2 separate regions of the Homo sapiens genome follow, and region 2 is linked to region 1. Evidence: fine-mapped expression QTL. Tissue or cell type: esophagus mucosa. Region 1 holds a variant in brackets; the other region holds the start of a gene. All regions are shown on one strand. Distances are between the middles of the regions.

Region 1 (8,103 bases):
CAGCCTTCGATTTTCAATGTGAATACAAGAGGAATGAGAGTTCTGTGCAAAAGCATCCTCTCTCCATTCATGGGCCCCAGAAGCACACAACAGGAGGGGCTGCCACATTGGCCCTGCGGTCACTCACATGATCCCCACGGAAATCCCAGATCATCTCCCCCAAGGGGAGCATTCCTCCAGAGAAGCTGGAGCGCATGGGGAAGATATCATCTCCAGCGTTGTCTCTATGATGACACATATCCACCCCGATAGCCCTAAATGCTCATAAATGTCAAAACCCGGGTGTTTTGAGTGTTGACGATGAAGCCTGCAGATTTCATAGCCCCTTTTGGTTCTTCTCGGGCCTCCGACACAGGCGAAGTCGCTCTGCTTCCCAGCTAGATTTATTTTCAAGGGCTTAGCTCTGAGGGACGATGGGAATGTTTCAGCATGAGTGCTCCTGACCACTAGGAAAAAAAGCTCCCAGTACATTTCACAGACATCAGCGAGGATTCTGCAGAGTCCATTCTTTCAGGAACAAAATTGCATTTTATGAAGCCGTCCCTTTTCTGTTTCATCTGTCAAGCAGGTTTGCTGAGAATAATTTAAATTTCATGCAGCAGCAACTGTGGGGCACTGGGGCTTCCCTTCAGGCCCACAAACAGGCCTGGCAGTGGAGTCGCAGTTCTGCTTCTCAGGAGCACCCTGCCCCTGCGGTCCTGACCATTTACAGCCCAGACACACAGTGGTGGGCCAGGGATGGGATGCCATCCCAGTTCCTTAGCATGACCTCATGCCACATCAGACAGGGGATGGGGACAGGCCAATGCACCTTTCTTCAGCCTCCAGCACCAACCACCAGGGGGGGACAGGTTTCCCCGCAAATGTATGAATAACTGGGTAGACCCAGTCAATGGTTTATCTTTCTAAAATTAACTTTTATCGAGTGCTTACCAAATGGCAGGTAGTGTTTTAAGCTTTTCTATGCATATTAATTTAACCAGTTCTCACATCATCCCCATGAGGAGGATTCTATGATTATTCCCAATTCTTAGAGACAAAGAAACTGAGGTTCAGAGACATACTCAGCTTCTAAGTGGCGGAGCTAGGATTCAATCCCAGTGCTGTCAGACTCAAAAGCTTGAAGCTCTTAGCAGTGGTGAAATGCTGAGTTGACATAACCTTTGGCTTAAATTTTCTCACCTATACCACAGAGGTAAATGTGCCCACTTTCTGGCCTGAAATCTCTTGCTTGCTATCAGCTGGGTGGATGAGCAGATGGAAAAGTTACCATAACAATGCTGCAATCATGGTTACCATGGTGAATGCTCTACCAGGCAGCCTGGAGTGGGAAGAGGAGCTGGCCCAGGCTGGTTCTGATTCTAACTCACTGGGTGACCTTGGCAGGCCACATTTTCTTTGGGCCTCACTACTGTGACCTGTAGAATGAGGGGCTGGAGGACGTGGTCACTCTGCTCCTGTTAGGCTCTTGGAACTTGTGTCCTGGGGAGGCTGCTGATTGGTCTGAGCCATGAGTGTGTGTTGCGGGGCTGGGGGAGCCCACCAGACCCTCCCTGTACTTCAGCAGCCCAGGAGTCTGCTTGTCCAACTGGCCTTTCCTCAAGACACGTGAGGAATCTTTAGGCCACAGACAAATGAAGAAGTAGAAAAACCAACTCAGGCCTGAAGGCAGCAGTGACAGAAAGAATTGTCATCACCTCACCGGCCAGCTGCTGGGAGCACAGCCAGCCTCCTCACCCAAAGAGCCTGGCAGAAGCCGGCCCCTGCCTGGGAAGGTGACCAGGCCCACAGGGCTGGGTGGGGAGGGTGATGGCATGGGATGCCCCAGCCCCCAGGGCACGTGATGTTCACCCTGCGCACTGCCTAGCCAAGAGGGGACACTAAGGCCTCACAGTACTGACACTAGTCCCCCAGTCACTTTCCTCAGGGACAGTTGCTGAGTTTCCGAGGGTGGCTCTGGTCCACATGTGGCTCTAGACCCTTCACCCAGGAAGCCCGGTGGATACATTCCAGCAGCTGTCCCCACACTCTGGTGAGCTCGGACACAGCTCTGCTCCTGGCTTCTACCCGGCCAACCTCGCCCACCCACCCCACCATCCACTGGAGTGCAGTTTCAGCTGTTTCCACAATGGGCTTTCCCTAGAGGAAAGGGCGCCACAGCTGAAAAAAGCTTTAAACTCCCTTCCCTTGGTCACCTGGCTGTTACCAGTCTCGGTCTGGAGCCCGCTAGACGGCCTCTTCCCCCCAGCTCCCTCTTGCCTACGGAGCATCTGGAGTCCCAGCCAAGGGGTAGGTTTGAGATGCTCTTTCCTTTCCTTGCTTTCTTGGGGCCTGGCTGCTGTGTCTTATCTGAAGACCTGCCTTTTCCTCTTGGTGAGGTTAGAAAGGAACACCTTTCAGGCTGGGCACGGCGATTCACGTCTGTAATCCCAGCACTTTGGGATGCCAAGGTGGGTGGATCACTTGAGGTCAGGAGTTCAAGACCAGCCTGGCCAACATGGTGAAACCCCATCTCTACTGAAGAAGAAAAAAAAAGGACATGAACACCTTTCCCTAAGAGGGTAGAGCCTTGTCCCATAGGCCTCACCTGGATGACAGTGACAGCGGTGATAGGAGGAGGTCAGCACCAATATGAGACTCGAAATACCACATGCCAGGTTCTGTCTTGTTCTGAGCACTTCACACAGGTTTTAACCCACACAGTCCTCACAACAACTCTGCTCGCAAGTACAACGACCTCTTCCCATTTTACAGAAGTGACGCCCAGAGAGGTTAGGTAACCTGTCCAGGGTCACTCAGATAGCAAGCGGTAGAAGGGAATTCAAATCCAGGCAGTCTGTCTCCAAAGTCTGGCTGTAGCCACTGCACTAGGCCTCCCCTGCCAATAACTTCAGGGGGAGAGACATTCTTGGGTCATCTGGTCACACTGTCCAGGCCACAGATTTGTTATACACAAGGAGCCGTGAGCTCCCCGAGGGCAAGAGCCAGCCAGCTCTTGCCTGCTCAGTAAAGACCCACATTGTTGACCGGGGAAACCGCAAATACCTGGGCCCGGGCCTGCCCATCAGTTGATGTGGTCTTGGCACGGGGTCAGACACATAGGCTAGGGGACAGGCCTCTGGGTGGGCAGGAGCCAGGCTAGAACGGCGGGAAGGCACTGTGGCCCAAATCTGCCAGGGGTGCTCGGGAAGCCAGCACTGCTGTCCTCCCTTCCCCCCACCCAGTGCTCCTGGGCACCAAGGGACCAGGGCTTAATCCGGGGAATCAAACAAGCCCCTGCAGGAAACAGGCCGGGCTGGAGGCAGAATTCAGTTCCTCTGTTGTGACATGCCAAGGAGCGGGCTGTCCTCACAGGAATGAACTTT[C/T]GCCCCCTCTCCCCCTCCTGGCCACCCTGCCCAGTCCTTGCCCCAGCTGTTGTTTTCTGTCTGAGACTGGGTTCCCTTCCTCTCATGTGGCTGTGGTTTGGGATCAGGCCAGTCAAGGATGGTGAATATCAAGCCACTCTGGAGCAAAGCGGGAGCTCTGCAGGCAGCACAGCCCTGTGGGGGAGCCCCAGCACCGAGCCCCTCCACTTCATCCCCCAGAGCAGCCCAACACCATCCCTACAAAGGCATGTATCCTTAAAAGGACAGACACTTTCAAGACGGCCTCCGGGCCCAGCCTCTCTCTCCCACCTGGAGCCCCGAGCAGTCGGTTCCAGCGGCTGCCATTCTCCATATGGCCAACAGCTGGCCCTGCAGAGCGCCTGCCAGATGTGGCCAGCAGGTCCAGCGGCTGGCCCTACTGGGCAGAGGTCACTGAGTCAGACCAGCGCTCGGGCTGGCGCCCAGGGGAGGAATGTGTTTGGCTGGCCTGGGGGCAGCGTGCCCAAATAATCCTCCATCTCCTCTCCCCTGTCCAACATTCTTTCCCTCCCCGCCTCAGTGGGGTGGTGTTTTCATAACAGGAAAATAAAATCAATAAGGCACTGCAGCAAGATGTCAGTGCGCTCCGAGCCAGCCTCCAATAGCTCCATTGTCTCAGCCTCTGCCAGGCTCTGTGGCCGGCAACACTCACAGTTATTAATGGGAAGCAGGGCTGAAAGGGAGTTTTGAAAACCAGGAGACAAAGGCGCAGCACACCTGGAGCGCGGCTTTCCAGCACCACAGCCACCTCACAATGGCCGGGCTGGGGCTCCCCGCCTTTAACTTCTCTGGCAACTTTTCTGAAAGCAGGAAAAGAAAAGCCTAGACACACACACATGTGCACACACATACACTCATGCACACACACACGCATGCAGGCACATACACGCATGTACACGGACACTGCCCCAAGGGGGCTCCTGGGAGGCAGCTCCGAATGGCCAGCAGAGGCAAAGGCAGCCTGCACAGCCCCTGCTCGGTGAGGAAGCAGGATGGGGACCGATGGCCTTCCTACCACAGCCATGGCCAGGGGCCCGGCCCTCCAGGACTCAGGCTGCCTGAGGGGCTCCGAGCAGCCAGCACGATGGAGGACGAGCTCAGCCCAAGGCCAAGCAAGAGCCTTGGCAACACTGTTTTCCACATTCCATTCAGCAACACAGGTTGGCCTCTGTTGCCATTCCCAAGGCTGGAGCCACCTCTTCTGAAAGAAACGGGAATGACCTGGCGCTGACATCCCTGAAGCCAGCTGTGGGGACAAGTCCTGGGTCCTCTGCAGAAAGGTCCCACAGCCTTGGACCAGCCCTTAGAAGGCCTACTGAGCCCTTGCTGTGCCTCAGTGTCCTCAACTGTAAGGCAGGGATGATAAAAGTACTGACCTCACCGTGCTGTGGCAAGGCTCAGAAGAGACAACGGATATGAGAACACGAGGCCCAGTGGTTAATAAAGTGTGGGTTTATCACCCTTTATGACTGTTACTGCTTGTCAGTATCTTCTTGCACACCCAAGTTACTGGCACCCCCAGGGATGCTTGCATGGTCTCAATTTATCTATTTAGGAACCCCATATTGCCATCTTGGAGGTCCACTGTTACTTCACTCATTAATAGCATCTAATCAACATGGCATAGGACAATGAGTGGCCTCAGCACCTGCTTGTCTTCCTACAAGTTAGTCACAGAGAAAGACTTCATGGATAATAAAACCCGCATGAATGCTCGCAAACAGTTTCCAGGCCCAGGTCCTGGAAGGACAAGACTCTGGAGGACTCGGGGCGTGGAGCACAGGCTGCCCCACAGGAGCCTGTGGGGCTGGCCTGAGCCTGCAGGGAGGCAGGGCCCCTCTGTCCGGCTCCTGCTCAGAGATGACACCACATCTTACCTTGGTGGTGACCGCAGACGCAGAGCTGGCCACGAGGCTGGTGATGGCCTCGCTGCTGCCGGTGGTGCAGGGAGCAGGAGCTGTAGCCGGGGTGGGCAGCCGGGAGGGCACCACGGGCAGCGGCAGGAGGCCGGGCCGGACGCTGAGGCTGCTGGCTGTGCCGCCACCGGCCCCCGAGGTGACACTGCAGATGCTGGTGGTCCCATGCGTCCCGTTGACGCTCCATTCGCGGCGGTCCCAGCCCACCCGGTAATCTCTTTCGAAGCGGCTATGGTGCCGGGACATCTCGGTGGGCCGAGGCGGCTTCTCACAGGGAAACAGAGCCCGGACCTGTGGTGACAGGGTGGAGAGAAGGGTGATTTAGGACTGGAGCAGGCAGCGACAACTGACAGCATCCATGAAGCCCCTTCTCTGGGTTCAATAACAGGCCTTCAAACATTAGCTCATTTCAGAGTCACGCTAGCCCACAAAGCATGGATCATTAATTAGCCCCACTTCACAGACAAGGAATACACAATTTGCCCAGGATCACGTGGCCAAAGTAAGTAGGCAGGATTTGAACCCAGTCACAGTTAAAAGTGATACTGTTTGTTCTGCCACATCTCACTGCCCTGAATGACACAAATGTGCATATTTTAATTATGGATGGGACTTTATCCCCTCCCACCCCACCGTGAAAAAAGAGCCGTGAACTCCTCAGGACGTGTTTTCCTCCAACACGTGATAGGATGCGGCCACCCACGTGTGCAGACTCACTTTATAGTGGACAAAGCCCTTTACATAAATCTCTCTTCCTCCTACAGTAGCCTGTGAGGCGGCAGGGCATGGATGGTTCCCAGTTGAGGGTCGAGGGACCTCACTGAGAATAAGTTATCCCTTGAGGTTCGAGTACTAGAAAGTGATAAAGAGTCCAGGATCCCCAGCCTTTAGATCCTAGCTAAATGCACAACTCAAGTCGCAAAGGGTGTTAGCCTCCAGGAGTTGAGTTCCCTTTCATAATCACAGCCCTATGATTTGATCTCGGGCGGCATCAGAGACCCGGAGTACCCTGGCCTCTGTTAACCAGACTATCTCCCACACAGCTCTCCTGAGCCTCTGAGCATAAGGCCCTTCCATGTTGTCATGGAGACCTGGACACACCATGATACTTGGAAGGGCTTCTGAATCACCAAAGATTGCATTTTGCTCAGTATTACCATGACTTGCCTGGTTCCCTGCCCATCCAGGGCCTGGTGTTACTCTCGGTCAAGAACGCTGTAAAGACGCAGGGGAAGCTGTCGGTCTCAGAGGCCATGGAGAGGCAGAGACAGAGGGGAGAGGGCATGGCAGTGCCAGGGCACAAGTGGTGGTGGGTTAGGGTAGGGGTCTGCATCACACCCACAGCCCTGGGCATGGCTCAGGCACAGCTTGGTTGCCTTTGGCCTTTTCCATTCTCCAACTGTTTTCCAGTCTGGGGGTGAGTCCCCGGAGGTCCGGGTTCCCAGCTCCTTTTCCTATCCTGCCAGTCCAGCTCAGCCCTGGGGAGGCACCCTGGAATTGTTGGCCAGTGGACAGACGGGCCACTTTATTTTAAAAATATCTATCTATAAAGCCTGTTCTTACTGCAGACTTTGCACATCCAGACCTAGTTGTCAACTTCTAGTGCCATGGAGCCAGGGCCTGTGCCCAACCCAAGCAGCCTCCTACCCATGTTCTACTTGCATGCTGGCCTGTGCCCTGGTGGCCATCATCCCCTCTGCCAGGCACACTGGGCAGACCTGAACCCACCCTGCAGCCCAGGTGAAGCCTGCAGCCCCGCCTGAAACAGAGCTGACCATAACTTCTTCAGCTGGATGTGGTGTCACTGTTTATTTCACCATTATGCTTTCTGGCTTACACCATGACACAAAAATTCTTTTTAAAAAGTCTATCCAGGCTGGATGCAGTGGCCTACACCTGTAATCCTAGCACTTTGGGAGGCCAAGGCAGGCGGATCACAAGGGCAAGAGATCCAGACCATCTTGGCCAACACAGTGAAACCCCATCTCTACTAAAAACACTAAAATTAGTTGGGAGTGGCAGCACGTGCCTGTAGTCCCAGCTACTCAGGAGGCTGAGGCAGGAGAATCACTTGAACTTGGGAGGCAGAGGTTGCAGTGAGCTGAGATCGCGATATTGCACTCCAGCCTGTCAACAGAGCAAGACTCCGTCTCAAAAAAAAAAAAAAAAAAAAAAAAAAGCCTATCCAATATTACATGGTTAAAAAATAAAAATCCATTCCCTTTTGATCTCCCCACATAAACTTTTTCGGCTGAACTTCTTGATGGCATTGTCTAAACTTAGCTCCAGTTTCCTCGTCCTGTTCACTCTGTGACCTGCTCCGCTGTGGCCTTCGCCCTGGCCACTCCATGGGAACTGTTCTCATTGAAGTCATGGGTGACCTACTCGCTAAATCCAAGGGGACATTTATGCCGCTGTCCTCAACTTCCCTCACTTGCGACGTGGCTGATCTTCCTTGCTTTCCGGAACCCTCCTCTGCAGTTTCTGTGATGCCAGCCCTCTCCCAGCCCTCCGCCTCCCTCTCGGCTGCTCCTTCTCAGTCTCCTTGGCGGGCTCCTCTTCCTCAGCTCATTCTTAAAAAGCTGGGGCTCCTCCGGGTTCCAGATCTCCTCCTCCTCTTCTCCCCGGATGATCTCATCCCTCCATCCCCTCTTTCTGGATAACTCCCAAGGCTACCTTTGCAGCTCTCCTCTCTCTTAAGCACCACCCCCACCTCCCTGCAGCCTGCCGCACACCTTCCCCCAGCTGTTCCACAGGTACCTAAACGCCCAAAGTTGCTAAAT
Region 2 (8,103 bases), 180 kb after region 1:
CATTTCTTGTTCTCCAGTCCTCTTACACAGTAACTGCCTTGGTTTATCCTCATTCAGCACAACTAAAGGCTGGATTTCTTATTCATGATGTTTCTTCCTCCTCCTATCCCCAAGTAGGCACTTAGTTGACTGATTACAGAATCACAAAGTTGGTTATAATTCCATTTCTTCATCTGACTTTGAACTTAAGTGTTCCAATTACTTTGCCTGATCCTAATAAGTCAGTAGCGTGCTAATGCTTGCCTTGATATTTCTGAAATATACAGGGTTGTGATTAGCATGGGATTGCATCATTAGAAAGCTAAGTTGAAAGTGGGTGAGCAAAATCATCACTCGCATTTAAGTAAAACTGCCTGTTCAGTGGACTTACAATGTTACTATGATCCTAGGGGCACTATATGCTGTGACTAAATATATATTGTATTTGGAAAATCCTCTGCTGTTCTGAAAACTTCTGGCTTTGACCACTACTAGAAAAGACCCCAGGACAGACCTGCTCTAATATAGTCTCGAAGTCTCTCCAAGCCAGATACAACCGATGACACAAAGAATGCCTAAGCCATAACAGTACTGGGATTTTAAAAAAAAAAAAAAAAAAAAGAAGAAGAAAGAAAGAAAAAAAGGAAGGAAGCAAAAAGGAGGAAGGAAGGAAAAACTTTAGTTAGTTCTGCTGGACTGAATTGATGTCTCCCAGCCAAAAAGTGAGAAAGCTTTACAGTAAGCCTGCTGAAAGAAAGAAAAAAAAAACCCATGTACACATACATATCAAATGAGATGCCAAAAAATGACATTAGTATTAGGGGTGCCATTTGAGTTGATGAAAAAAAATTAACTCCTTTATATCTGTATGTAGCTGGGAATAGTGTAGGCTTTTAGAAACTAGCAGGAAAAAAGAAGGAGATACTTTAAACTAGGAATGGTTTGTAGCCAAATCAATTGATAAAAGAAGGAAAAAGATGGCACAACTAAAATTGATGCCAAAGATTTATAAGGTTGACTAAATAAAAATGAATGGATCACCATGGAAATGCATGAATACTGAAATAGGCAAGATTTGAATAGACTAATGATGTGCCTCACTTAAACTGACAGGTGTTGATAACAACGGTGACACTCAATCCACACCAACCGCCACACTTCCAACATGTTTATTCCTAGAAAACAGGCTGGATTTAGAGGTTCCTTTGGTAATAGTTTATAAGCAAAATGCATTTTCCGGTCTTAAAGTGACTGACTCAATGCTCATCTACTGGAAAAACAAAAAAAAGGTTTTTATCCATTTTGTTCCTAGATATGAGGAGCTGCAGTTAGCAAAAGTCATTCTCCTGGGCTCTACTAGTCTTTGTTTCAATAAACCTCCCACAAACCTGAATTCTCAGTCTTGCTTGTCTCCCACACTGAGTACTTGAAGTATGACCACCACTCATTAGAAACATAATTAAAAAGACACAACACTAGATCCCCACCCCCCATCACATTCAGATGAAAACCAATAACCCTTAATCTATTTGTTACCATGGCTACCATAGGATATTTTATTTCAGTAAAACTCTAGGTATTTCGTTTGGATTGCTGCTTGCAAATGAAAGTTGGAGACCTATAAATTTCCATAACCGAGAGACCGAGGAGAAGAAAATGTTTTTCTTAATCACAGGCAAATATGGTTTATAAGATGTTTGTGCAGAAAAGTTATTAAAATTGGTTAGATGCATCAGCCCATAAACCAATTTAAATGCCATTAAATTCATATAGAGTTTAAAAGGCACATGTGCTAGTAATTCCCTGATTTATAGCAGGGTGATAAATCAAGTGCACTCCAGCACAATGTATGGGACGGAGACTATTCATCAGTAGCACACAGCTCCATACCTGTATAAACACCTAGATTATGGACTAATCAAATACACGCATGCCAACCAGCCTTTAAAGTATTCACTAGTGCTTACTGGACATGTTTTCTCTAAGTGTCGGAAAGAACAATCTATAAAATTGTTCATTCTCCTCCCTCACAAAAAAATTAAAAAGCTCTATACCTTCTTTCCATAATAATAATAATAATAATAATAATAATAATAATAATAATAAATCAGGAATGAGGTGGGACAAGTCTGCTGTCATTCATCTGAAAATGAAGCAATTCCTCAAATCTGCCCTCCCAGGGCTGAGTTAGTGATAAGACCACACGGCGAGGAAGAAACTCTGTAGTGACTAGACAGATGACTTTAAAGAGACTGAAACTAGTATAAATACAGCCGTAACCAGGACAGATCTGTCATTGCAAGAGGAGTCCGAATCCCAGCGTTGCTGGACTGGAGAGAGGCTGGAACCTGCAGCAGCGGGCCGGGATGCCGCTGAGCTGCCGAAGTGGAAGTTTCGCAGGCAGCAGCAGCTCGGCGTCCTCCACGGTCTGGTCCCTCCAGCGCCGAGGTCTCGCCTAATGCTACATAAATACCTGCGTCCACGATTCGCCCGGGGCGCGCCGCGGCGCAAGCACGGGAGGGAGGGAGGAGAACGTTTGCAGAGCGGCGGGGATGGCAGCGGCGGCGGCGGCAGCTCCTTACCCATCAGCATCTCTGGGGGCCCGCGCGAGGGCCCGCCAACGGACCGCGTCTGCCGCTTGGTTCCACAGCCCAGGGACGACAACTGGCTTCTCAGCGGGTGGACCCAGGCATCCGAGACTCGCGCGTGGCCGCCACCCCCTCCTCCGAGACGGCTGGCCGCAGGCAGGCAGCGCGTCCCCGCCTTCCCCAGGCAACGCAGAGGCGACCTGCCCTAAGAGCCACCTCCGACCTACCCCGGCTCCCAGCCCCGCGCTCCGGCCCCAGGCGAGCACGTCCCTCCCTTGGGGCCCGGGGCCGACGCTGCCCAGCGCGGGCACCCGCGCGGCGACCGCAGATAACCCTAGCGCTCTCAGCCCGCTCCAGGCCACGGAGACCGGGACGCGAGCCCTGGGCTCCCCCGGCCCCCCGAGGCCATCGGGGCGCGCGTTCACACTCCCACACTACACATCTCCAGGTCCACCCTGTCCCACACATCAACAACCCCTCCCCAACGACACCACCTCCTGGCCGCTTCGCCGTCCCCGTGAGCTCTCCTTTCCGCGTCCCCCCACAACACGCTGGCACCCACAAGGTGTCAAGGGAAGTGTGCGTGTGTGTGTCGGGGTGGGGTGGGTCACAATAAGGTCTGTGCGGGTTCCCTCCCGACGGTTTTCGAGCTCATCTACCTCGAAAGTTACTTGGGATTGAGTAAAGAGACCCAGTCCCCAAATGCGAGATCAGAGGACGCGAGGGGCAGAAAACCCCAACCTGGCTTCTCGCTGCACAGAGGCGCGCACCTCCCCAAAGGACAGTGCGCGCGGCCGCCCCTGGGGGCCAGCCCTCCGTCGCCTCCAGGTCTCCTGCCCGGCCGGGGCCCTGGGCCGCTCAGGGGAACGTGGCCTGGAGAGGGGCGCGCGCCGCCGGGCCCAGCAGGGGGGCTGCTCCGGCCAGGGGTCACACAAGCCTCCAGCACCTCCGAACACCGTGACAGTGGCCCCAGGCAGCCCCGGTGCATACACACCCGGGGGCAGGAAGTTTTTTCCCCCCCTTTTTTTCCCCCTGGAGCAGCGCAGGCGCAAGGGCTCCTGCAGCCTGCGAGTCCAGACGCGGGAGGCTCCTGTCGCCGCCGCCGCCGCCGAAGCCGAGCCCAGGGTTCCGGGTTCCGGCCCCGCTCCCACGCCCGGCCCGGCCCGGCCCCACGCGGCGGCCAGGACCTGGGTCTCCCTCCGGCGCCGCATCCGAGGCGCTCCAGCCCGGCCCGGCTCTTACCTCCGGCGCGCGGCTCCGGCCCCGGCCCGACGCGCAGAGAGCCCGGGGTCGCGGGTGGGCGCAGGAGGGCTGATGGAGAGCGGACAGCGCCGGCGGGTAGCGGTGGCTGGGGCCGCTCGGGTCCTGGCCGGAGGAAACGGATCCAGGTCCTCCTCCTCGCGTTCCTGCTCTCCGCCTTCTCCCCTCGTTCCTCCTCCTCCTCCGCCGCCGCCGCCTCCCGGCAGCCCAGGGAGGATGCCCGGGAGAGGGAAGTCGGTCCTCCTGCCTGTCAGCCTGTGCGGCTATGAGCGGTGCGGCGCGGCTCTCATCGAGGCGGCGGCGGCGGCGGCGGCTCCGGCAGCATCGCCCCCGCCCTCTCCCCGCAGCCGCGGCGGCCGCGGGGCTGGGGCTGGCTCCGGGCTCGCGGCTCGGGCTCCGGGCGGGGGCTGCGCTCAAGCGCGGCGACCGCCGGGGCTGCGGACGGGCGCTGCGGAGCCGGGGCCGGGGCTGGAGCTGCGGCGAGATCCGCGGTGGCGGGGACGGCGGCGGCGGCGCGGGGGCTGGCGCGGCCGCGGCGCGGGGACCATGCTCCCTTCTGGCTCGCTCCGCTCCGGGTACCGTCTGCTTTAGCTGCGAGGGAGGCGGGCTTCGGCGCGCAGCCAGGGGCGGGCGGAGCCAATCACGGGCGCCCGAGTGGGCGGGGGTGGCGGGTGGGGGAGGCGGGGCCCTCTGGCCCGGCCCGGCCAGGCCGGGCCCCGTGCGCAGTTTCCCCGGCCCGAGGGATTCCCGGCTGCCGCGCGCCGGGTCCGAGGTTGGAGTGCTCGCGGGTGTGTCCGTCGGTCCGTCCGTCCGCCGCCCCCGCCCCCCGCGGTGGCCCCCGGCTCGCCTGGCTCCGCGGCCGCGCCCGGCAGACGCACGGCGCGTGGCACGGGCTGCTCCGCCGTGGCCTCCTGGCCTTGCTGGCCCAGGGTTGGGGGCCCGGGACTGAGGCGAGCTCCCCGTCTGCTCTCAACACCTGAGGAAACTGGCGGAAAAGTTTGAGAAGGAAAAAGTCCAATCGTCTTTCAGCTTCCGCCCTCTTTATGACACTCCAGCCTTGGAAAGGAGCAGGAATTGTCCACACCTCTGAAGGACCAGGGAGAGCCCTGCAAAGTGTCCACCAGCCTTCTGAGTCAGCCCTGCCTCTCCTGGGGCGCGCGACTTTTCTGTTCATACTGACCCTTAGGAATCCAGGAAGCCTTCTCTGTTTAACAGCCTGACCAGCCTTTGATGTCTATACCGACTACTCACCCCCACCACAGCTCGCTCTCTCTCACACTGTCTACACTGACTTCTCAGTCCCACCACCTCTCGGTCTACACATGCTGTCTACACAGACCCTAACTTCTAACCCTAATAGAAGAGATTTGGCCAGAGGCGTGTGGGACCCCCAATGAGGGCTTTTCCATTATGCTAGAATATTTCACTCTGGGCACAGTCTTCTCCACCCCGACCGCTCTCCTAATCTGGTTTTTATTCCCCGACCTCTCCCTCCTCCCCTACATCCCCTTTACCTGGTTTTGAGTTTCAGAGGAAATATCTGTACCTGCCCTCCTCCTCCACCCCTGTCTGAATGTAAAGGCCTGAGGGCCCAATCCTCATCCTCCACCCTCCCTCCGCTCCCCCGGGTAAAGGCCTGAGGCCTGAGGCCTTGCTAGAAATTGGAGTTGGGGTGCTGTAGGTAGTGTGGGGAGCTGGCTGTGGGGGCCCAGCTGGGAGGAGCTGGCCTGGGGAGGGCTTTGCCAGTCCTTGCCTCCATCTACCAGGGCCAAGGAGGACTGAGCCGGTAAATATTTTCTTCTCAGCTCCCCCCCTGTGATGTCTGATCCAGGCCTCTGCTCTCCTTGGCTGTAAACTCAGCGCACGGATTGTGTCTTCTTTAATATTTTGTAGGAAGCAGAGTACAGTGTCGTGGCTGATAAATAATAAATAATAATAATCTACTGAGGGTAGCAGGAGCACTGTCAGAAATGGAATGAGGACGCCGGGGAAATGGCCCACTAGTGTCAGAATAACTGCATTTCCTGGAAAAAACATCCAACAGAGTTTGTGTGTGTGAAGCCCGGGACTCAAGGGAGGGGACAGAGCGGAGCACTTCAGGGAGGAAGCCACCCTTCATGAGGACGACAGCCAGGAAAACTGGCGTGACCTTAAGAGAGGGTGACAGAGGTGCCGAAAAGGGGAGCAGGAGTGGGGGGGAGGGGGAGAAAAGCTCCCCAAGGGTCCTCAGACAACACCTGAAGGTGATCGATAGCTTTGGTTTGAGTACTATGTCCTTCAAATGGTATATGAAAAGTGATAGAAGAGTACTAGATAGCAAAATGGAAAAAAGAGGGATTTCTTGGGATTTCAAATTGATACACAGGTCAACCCAATGCAAAAAGAAGGAGAACAAAGCCACAGGCGTGTGTCTGTTCATCCACGCTGTAGGAAGCTGTCCTCTGAGATAATCTCCATGGATGCACTGACTGTGAACATGCAGAAGTCCACCCAGCCGTATTCTGGAGTAGCGCCCTATGTGACAGCTGTAGGCACTACAGAAATGTGGCCAAGGTTTGCAGGGTCTGGGATAGGTTAAGATCTGGCAATGTGAGGCACTCACAGTGTCTTACAGATGATTTTGAATGATCCTCAGTTGAAAGAAGAAAATAGGAACTCCAAGAATCCTTATTCAGCTACCTCTCCAGATGAAGGAGAAAGGATGCTCCCAATTTCCCTGCTGGCAGCATCAGAAAAGAGAGCTGTGCTGAGGTCTTATCCAGAGGAGGACCTACTCGGGCCATGGTGGTGCGAAGGGCGCTGGTTCTGGGGCACCGCAAACTCTTCAGGGCTGAAGTTTGGTAACAGCTCACCAGGGGAGCCAGCTTGTCAGGGAGAATGAGAAAAGCTGTGTGAATTAGACTCCCAGTGGGCTTGTCTACCCTGTCCTCACCCATCCTCGTTTTATCCAAGGCTTCCTCGTCATTGATGCTCTGCCCTGCTGGGAGCTGTTTAGTGTGGACACAGCCATTTATGAAGGGTCTGCGCTGGTCTGCATATGAGTTCCATTTCAGAGTGCTGTTGTTCACATGATCTGTCCCAGCGCATCTAGTGTCTTGGCAACATAAACTGGATTTGCATTGTGTCAGGGGTCTCCTCTCTCTCTCTCTCTACGTAGATCTTGCTGGTGTCTGGGATCTTTTTTGGGTCATTCTTTGCTCTACTCTGTGGCCCATGGGATGGGCCCCATGACTGGCATGGATCTCTCTGTGTGGTTCATGGGACTCGTGTGTTGTGCCCAGAAACCTCTTACACCATGGTCAAAGATTTCTCCATGAAACACAGGATTGACTTGGTGGTGTGTTCTCCAAAAGCCAACCCTCCCTGTCCTGAGCCCCAATCTGGGCACTGGGATCAGGACTAATGTGTACACTCCAAGCAGATGGGTAGTGAAGGAGCGGACTCATAGTGCATAGGGAAGTGGACTGGAACACTCCAGGACATCCATTCCCCGCTCAGATCATAGACCATTATCTGTGCAGTCAATCAGACAAGGACTTGTACTGGAAAGGCCACCATCACCCAAGGAGGAACCAGAGGAAGTCACATCAGGAACACCTGGGGTGCCACATAAACCCACAGTGGCCAAGGTGGACTTCTGTCCTTGTCTGTGTTTATGATAATAGCCACAACAAAAGGACCTTTACCCAGTGGCTACTATATGTCAGGCACTGTACCAAGAACTCTACCCATGATATCTTGTTAATCCTCACAGCAACCTGTGGAATTGGTGTTATCAGCCCCCAAAACTGAGTTCCAGAGAGGGTAGATGAGAACCTGCAATCACACAGTAAGTGACAGTGCTGGAATTTCAGCCTGATTGTCCCAAAGCCTCTGTTCTTTTTACCCCACCAAACACACAAATGCAGTTTCTTTTGTCATTAGCCCAGTGCTTTTCCCTTGGAGTAGATACAGTAGATGCTGATTTTTGCCTTCATCAGCAAAAGTCTTTACCCCAGACACATAACTGGAGATCAGTCATAGAACAGAGAGCACTAATGTAGAAGGGCACAGGTCCCTTTGATTACTGAACACTCAGGTCACTCGGAAGAGTGGAAGCCTCATCAGAAACCTTCGGGTTTGACAGGACATCTGTTTCCAGGAGCACGGTGGGTGTAAACAGAGCAGCTGCCAGCCTCTGTCCTGGTTGGGGTTTTGTGTTTGCTGGTTTTTCTTTTTTTTTTTTTTTAAACACATTATACTCTATTAAAACCACCCCTATTTGGCATCAAAAGCA

Evidence for each region. PIP is the estimated chance that this variant, and not a neighbour inherited with it, causes the effect.
Region 2: it holds the start of KLHL29, and the variant in region 1 is fine-mapped to the expression of KLHL29 in esophagus mucosa (GTEx, PIP 0.98).

What each region holds. Positions count from the first base shown.
Region 1 is chr2:23,559,660-23,567,762 of GRCh38, reverse strand. KLHL29 (kelch like family member 29) reads right to left here. Exons shown (of 14, transcript NM_052920.2): 3 at 5,282-5,611. The coding sequence starts at 5,566. Among named protein-coding and RNA genes, the nearest start is that of LINC02923, 180 kb to the right of the region's middle. RefSeq lists a silencer at 3,369-3,730. The variant C/T (reference allele first, on the strand shown) is at 3,366.
Region 2 is chr2:23,381,487-23,389,589 of GRCh38, reverse strand. It overlaps KLHL29 (kelch like family member 29), which reads right to left and starts at 4,411. Exons shown (of 14, transcript NM_052920.2): 1 at 3,810-4,411. LINC02923 (long intergenic non-protein coding RNA 2923) reads left to right here and starts at 2,272. Exons shown (of 6, transcript NR_187213.1): 1 at 2,272-8,103. RefSeq lists silencers at 2,525-2,574, 2,745-2,914, 2,935-3,054, 3,295-4,154, 4,325-4,674 and 1 more and an enhancer at 6,178-6,472.